2 linked regions of the Homo sapiens genome follow. The protein of the gene in region 1 interacts with the protein of each later gene in a pairwise test. Each region holds a gene or a part of one and is shown in the gene's direction. Other genes may lie near its edges.

The links.
Region 2: the proteins of SH2D4A (region 1) and CADPS interact in a two-hybrid assay, tested with the Homo sapiens proteins (one large-scale study listed by BioGRID).

What each region holds. Positions count from the first base shown.
Region 1 is NC_000008.11:19,319,963-19,323,997, forward strand, and holds part of SH2D4A (SH2 domain-containing protein 4A), read left to right. Parts: intron 1-4,035. UniProt on the Homo sapiens protein: Inhibits estrogen-induced cell proliferation by competing with PLCG for binding to ESR1, blocking the effect of estrogen on PLCG and repressing estrogen-induced proliferation. May play a role in T-cell development and function.
Region 2 is NC_000003.12:62,397,848-62,400,632, reverse strand, and holds the end of CADPS (calcium-dependent secretion activator 1), read left to right. Parts: intron 1-1,047; coding exon 1,048-1,227; 3' UTR 1,228-2,285; downstream 2,286-2,785.

The sequences.
Region 1 (4,035 bases):
CTAACCTGAAGCTGTATTAAAAAGTCACCTATGAGGTTTGATTTGAGGGGTATTAAGAAAGGTTTCTATCTCCTTTATTGTTACTGGTTCCTAATATGCTACTACTAGAACACAAAGTTCTTGTGTCAGTATATTTATAGCAATTGTGTTTGCATTTCTTAGACCTCAGAGATTTTTCTTTGAGGTATCTTTTTAGGGAACACCTCCTGTTAAAATGTAAGGAATTGCTATAAGGAAAAAAATCATAATACTATCTTTTTTTAGTGTGAATGAGTTTCTCAGATGTAAACTTTTCCTCGTTATCAAAGGAATCTCTGGTAGTTTGAGAGGGTTCTTTTGAGACCATGGGGGAGGAAATCTTTGTACATTAAGACTTAAAGCAGACAAGGTGCAGTGGCTCATGCCTGTCATTGCAGCACTTTGGGTGGCCGAGGTAGGAGGATCACTTGAGTCCAGGAGTTCTGACCAGCCTGGAAATATAGTGAGACCTTTTCTTTAGGAAAAATAAAAAATTAGCTGGGCATGGTGGTACATGCCTATAGTCCCAACTACTTGGGAGGCTGAGGTGGTGTAATTGCTTGAGCTCAGGAGATCGAGGCCACACTGAACTGAAATCACACCTCTGCACTCCACCCTGGGTGACAGAGTGAGACTGTGTGTCAAAAAAAAAAAAAAAAAAAAAAAGACTTAAAGCATATACACATACAGACACAGAAAAATACACATTGTCCACCCTCCTCACTCCGTTCTCACTAACCCCCACACCCCCGCCTTGCTGTTTACATGCGAAGTCTGTCATGGGTGAATACCAAAGTTGTGAAAACACAGCACACTTTTCAAGGTCACTTGCAGAGGCATCTAAGACCGTCTCTTTTCATGTTTCATTAAACCAGGAAAATAAAATTTTGTAAAATCACATATGGTTTCAAAGATTGAGAAAATGAATCTCTCTTGCATCCCTGGTATATGCCCAGGTTCACAAAGGAGGTCAGTGTAGCGTCCTTTACTTTTTACTGTCTTTTATTAAAACTTTTTTCCAGTGATGCCTTTATCATGACAAGGAAATAAACAGAAATATGTCATTTCCTCTTGTTATGATCAATACAACTATTTATGAAACACCTCCTGTTTCAGACACTATGTGAAGCACATTTATGCATATAATGCCTAACCTTCACAAAACTTCTGCAAAGTCAGCAGTGACAGTCCTGTTTTACAGATGATGAGACTTAGAGAAGTTCATTTTTTTTTTTGCTTGTTTGTTTGTTTGAGATGGAGTCTCACTCTGTCGCCCTGGTTGGAGTGCAGTGGTACAATCTTGGCTCAATGCAACCTTCGTCTCCCGGGTTCAAGCAATTCTCCTGCCTCAGCCTCCCAAGTAGCTGGGATTACAGGCATGTGCCACCACACCCAGCTAATTTTTGAATTTTTAGTAGAGGTGGGGTTTCTCCATGTTGGCCAGGCTGGTCTTGAACCCCAGACCTCAAACGATCTGCCCACCTGGGCCTCCCAAAGTGCTGGGATTACAGGCCTGAGCCACTGAAGCTGGCCATGAAACTTAGATAAGTTGAGTAATATATGCAAGGTTATACCACCAATAGATGCCCAGTTCTGTTGGATTTTACATTATTCTGCACTATCCAAAATACAACTTTTCCTCCAACAAATAACATGGCCAAACTGAAACATAACTCTTTTTCTTTCTAAACTGGTTTATGCACCTTCTTGGATTCCCCAGTCAGAGTTTTTCAGATATAATTGGGTCTCTTCTGGGCACCATGTTCACTGTGAACATAACATATATTAGTGTGATGGGGTGACCTTGGGGACTAGCAGCCAAAGGGTTCTTGCCACTAGAGTCAATGGCCCAGACTCTGTTAGACTTTGGGTTTCTCGTGTTTGCTGAATTGGTCTCCTTGTGATGACTTAAAATAATAATTTCAGTTTCTTTGCTTACATTTCTCGCTTGTAGGGTTTTGAATCTACCTCTCAGAAACCCTGTGTTAACTTTGTTAGTCAAATGATCATGAGAAAAGTATGTTAATATAAGTGGGGAAAGTTCTATCAATATCTCACGTCAAAAGTGTATTACTCCCTTAAATTGAAAACTTGGAAAAATATATTTTGCATTAAATTAGTTCCTCTTCTGACTACAGAAAGGGAAAAAGTTACTCCCACTTCCCCTAAAATCCCATCACTTCTCTTTCATCTTGCGCTGTCTTTGAAGATAAAGCCATAGACCGTCCAAAGCAATGCTGTCATGGCTGGTGCTGCCAGAGGTGCTTATCTGTGCTGCAGACCTGCTAAGCCCATGACCCTTGTGGGTTGACAGGTCACTCGTGCATCTGATCCCTGAAGGCTTGTGCTCCCTGCCTCCCCTTCTCCCGCCTTTCTGGTTAGTACTGAGCTAAGTGCTGCTTTTTCTTAGCAGTTCTTAGCCACACGGTGGTTTTGAAGGTTGTTCATTTCATTAAAAACATCATAGGCCACCCCTGCCATTCCTTGACCCCCTCTAGCTTATCACTTAGAAGTTCCTTCATTGTCATCTGGTCATTTTTCACTACGAATACACAGACCCCTGTGCTTAGTGTTTGGGGATCATCACTAAAATTGTTGTGTATTGTGCATCACAGAAACTTGTCTATTATTCTTTTTTTTTTTTTTTTTTTTTAAAGACAGAGTCTTGCTCTGTCTCCCAAGCTGCAGTGCAGTGGTGTGAGATTTCAACTCACTGCAACCTCTGTCTCCCTAGCTGCAGTGCAGTGGTGTGACATTTCAACTCACTGCAACCTCTGCCTCCCAGGTTCAAGCGATTCTCCTGCCTCAGCCTCCTGAGTGACTAGCTGGGATTATAAGCACCTGCTACCATGCCCAGCTAATTTTTGTATTTTCAGTAGAGACAGGGTTTCACCATGTTGGCCAGCCTGGTCTTGAACTCCTGACCTCAAGTGATCCACCCACCTCCGCCTCCCAAAGTGCTGGGATTACACGCATGACCCACCGTGCCCGACTTGTCTACTTGTTAGTAATCTGAAGGCTGAAGTAGAAGGGGCTGAAAAACTATCAGCATGTGAATTTAACTTAGTACTATATGAGAAGATCATTTCTGATTTCTGTAGTGGGAGAATGTGATACTTAGGGAGAGACGTATGGATCTACTCTGCTTGCTGGGGTAGCTAGAGGTCTACAGCCGCACCGTCCAGTGCAGTCACCACAAGCCACATGTGGCTCTTGAGCACAGGAAATGAGGCTAGTCTGGATTGAGGTGTGCTATACATGTAAACTACCGGATTTCAAAGACTTGGTAGAAGGAAAAGATAATGCCACATTAATAATTGTATATTCCTTATATATGGAACTGATGATATTTTGTATATCTTGGGTAAAGTAAAATACTTAATTTCACCTGTTCCTTTTGATTTTTTTTTTTTTTTGAGACAGAGTCTCTTGCTCTGTCTCCCAGGTTGGAGTACAGAGGCATGATCTCAGCTCACTGCAACCTCTGCCTCCTAAATTCTAGCGATTCTCCTTTCTCAGCCTCCCAAGTAGTTGGAGTTACAGGTGTGCGCCAGCACACCCAGCTAATTTTTGTATTATTAGTAGAGATGGGGTTTCACCATGTTGGCTAGGCTGGTCTCAAATTCCTGACCTTAGGTGATCCACCTGCCTCGGCCTTCCGAAGGGCTGGGATTACAGGTGTGAGCCAGGGCACCCGGCCTCCTTTTGATTTTTTTAATGTGGCTACTAGAAAAGTGATAGTTATGGATGTGGTACACATTTCTGCATGCTATAATGGTAGCACCAGCCAGCATTCAATACGCTTAACTGGGTATCAGACCCTGAGCATTGAGATTAAGTATATTGTCTCACTAAATAATCACAGCTAAGCCTGAAGTGTGTGTTGCTATTCACTTTTCACAGATGAGGAAAGTCAAGCTCAGGGACGTTCATTAACTTGGCCAGGGCAAACAGTAAGTGACACAGCTGGAATAGATCCTGGGTCTCATTCTCCCAAAGCCAGCACTGTAAACAAAT
Region 2 (2,785 bases), on another chromosome or scaffold:
GCAAGATGCCATCTTGAAAAAAAAAAAAAAAGAAAAAAAAAAAGAAAGAATGATGGGAGTGGTGTTGACGTATGTTAGCATTCCTTGTCTTGCCCCTTTAGCAAGTTTCCTATATCAATAGGAGAAACAAACAGCAGAATCAGTAGCTGAAATGATATGCAGTGTGATGAGGAGAGTTGTAGTTAGAGACCTTTTAAAAAAACAAAAAAAAAATTACAAAGTAGACAACAGCCAGATGCTTCTGGTCATATTCAATTAACACTGAAGGATTTCTAGAAAAACAGTCCTTGAGATACCTAAGGAAATCTGAGAGAAACTGCCTGAAGGAACAAAGAAAGAACTTGTGGTGCAGTAATACCAAGCCATTGTTCTTGAAAAAGAGCCAAATTTCTTCCCTGAGACCATAAAGTTGTGAACAGAATAGATACAGTTCTTTCCCAAGGAGAGAAGAAATGAGTCACATGTCTGCAACATATTGATGAGGCATTAGCGCTCCATCTTTCTCATAATTGCCACTGCCTGTAATAGGTTTCATATACCAACATACATATGTCTGTCTTATGAATGAGACAGAGGGATATCAGTACAGCTTATGCAGTTACAAGACTCAAAAATACTAAAACAAGACTGCAACAGAAATCACAAAATACCATAATCACTCAATCCATTATTTATATATTATAGCCCCTTCCTGTGTCTATCATATTACATTACACTAACCTAAGAGAAAGAACCAGTCCACAAAAAGGAACCAAAACAATTATGGAACATTTCCCTTTATGGAACTGAATAAACACAAGCTTATGTTCTTTGCTTTGTCTCATCTAATATAGTTTATCCTGTCACTATTTCTCATTTTCTGTCATTCAAAGGATCTCAGTTTTCAATACAAGTGAAATCTAAGCACAGTGGCTTTTTATTTGACAATGCATAAAGTGTGATATTTAGCTGAAGGTCAGTGCTCTCCCACCCACACCTGCTTTTACCTTCTCCCTCCCCATCATGGAGATGAGATCTCTCTTATCACTGTATCTTTTCCTTCCTTAGAAAACCTACAGAGATTTCCGATTGCAAGGGGTCCTGGACTCCACCTTAAACAGCAAGACCTATGAAACGATCCGGAACCGTCTCACTGTGGAGGAAGCCACAGCATCAGTGAGTGAAGGTGGGGGACTGCAGGGCATCAGCATGAAGGACAGCGATGAGGAAGACGAAGAAGACGATTAGACCATTTGGTCCTAGAGTCTGCTGGGACAGAGTCCTGTAATCAGTGCATGTCCTTAGTCTGTTAGTTAAACCCATTAGGAATTTTCTGTCAACTACCATGCCCATGAGATGTTTATCAATACAACTGCCATTTTAGCTATGTGGTACCAAGATTAGCAAATGACCTTCATATCCACTGATTTCCTGATGTCCATGTCTATATGTTTACAAGCAATATGGAGCACCATTCTTTAAATACTGTTCATGGAGAATACATAGTCTAACCACTAGGCGTGTCCCTGTTATCAGCAAAGATCAATGATGCTTCATTCATGTACTATGTATGCATTGGTGGTAAATGGATGTGAGGGCAAGTACATCAAGTACATTCACTCTGTTTCACGTATGTGGATGCCAGTTAATTAAATGAGTACGTAAATAAATTAATTAAAACACATAGATCTGCTTTGTGTTTTTATTTTTATTTTTTGAAAAACAAAAGGCAAGTCTCCAACAATTAACTTTTGATGCTTTCTGTTCCCCTAAAACCAAAAAATGAACCCCTTGTGTCGTTGTTAACCCATCCTTTCATTTACTCATATAATTAGCCAAAAAAAAAAGGATGGCTACATACCAATGGATTGATTCTCTTAATTGCCACGGCAAGGGGGCGATCCTATCATGACTTAACATCAAGCGCGCAGTTCAAAACTACTGTCTTCTGTCAAAGTTTTCTCCTCTTAAATGTTATTTTGCTTTTACGTCTCAACTGTGTATGTAAAAAAAATGAATATTTAAATTACAACCCTAGACTAAAAATGTGTTTATAATAAGATGTGGATATTTCCTTCAGTAGATTGTAACCATAATTTAAATTATTTTGTTCCACACTGTTTTTTATATCTGTCATGTACATTGCATTTTGATCTGTAACTGCACAACCCTGGGGTTTGCTGCAGAGCTATTTCTTTCCATGTAAAGTAGTGGATCCATCTTGCTTTTGCCTTATATAAAGCCTACAGTTATGGAAGTGTGGAAAACTGTGGCTTCTCAATAAATATTCAGATGTCCTAAGAATATACGTTTGGGTCTGTCTTCCTCTGTCTACTTTGAATGCCAGAACTGAAACACAACAAGAAGAAATAGGAAAGGGGAGGGAAGAGGTAATTTTTGTAGAGTGTTCTTGAAACTGTTGGAGTGGGTCGTTTTCAAATGCTCGTAGTTCTCCATGAGAGACTGCCTAAAATTCCGTTAATTCAGACTCCACTAATTCAGAACCCGTGGGCATTTGGACATGTTGGACAGATTACACTTGCATTATAGGATAAATAAGGGTTTGCTAAGCAAGTAAGTAGTGTAAACGAGAGAAATGTTTCTCCTGTACGAAGAGAAGGCCAACAAACTGTTTTTAAGCACCACTTTAACAGCAGTGTTTGCATTCAAACAAAGTGTGTGCCAATTATATATGATTCTTATATATTTGTTAAAGCATTTTAAAAGATTCCCTAAGATATGGAGTAGTCTACTTGCTCCTCAGGCCCTGTCAGCAATATAATCACCTAGGTTTGTAAGAAATTAA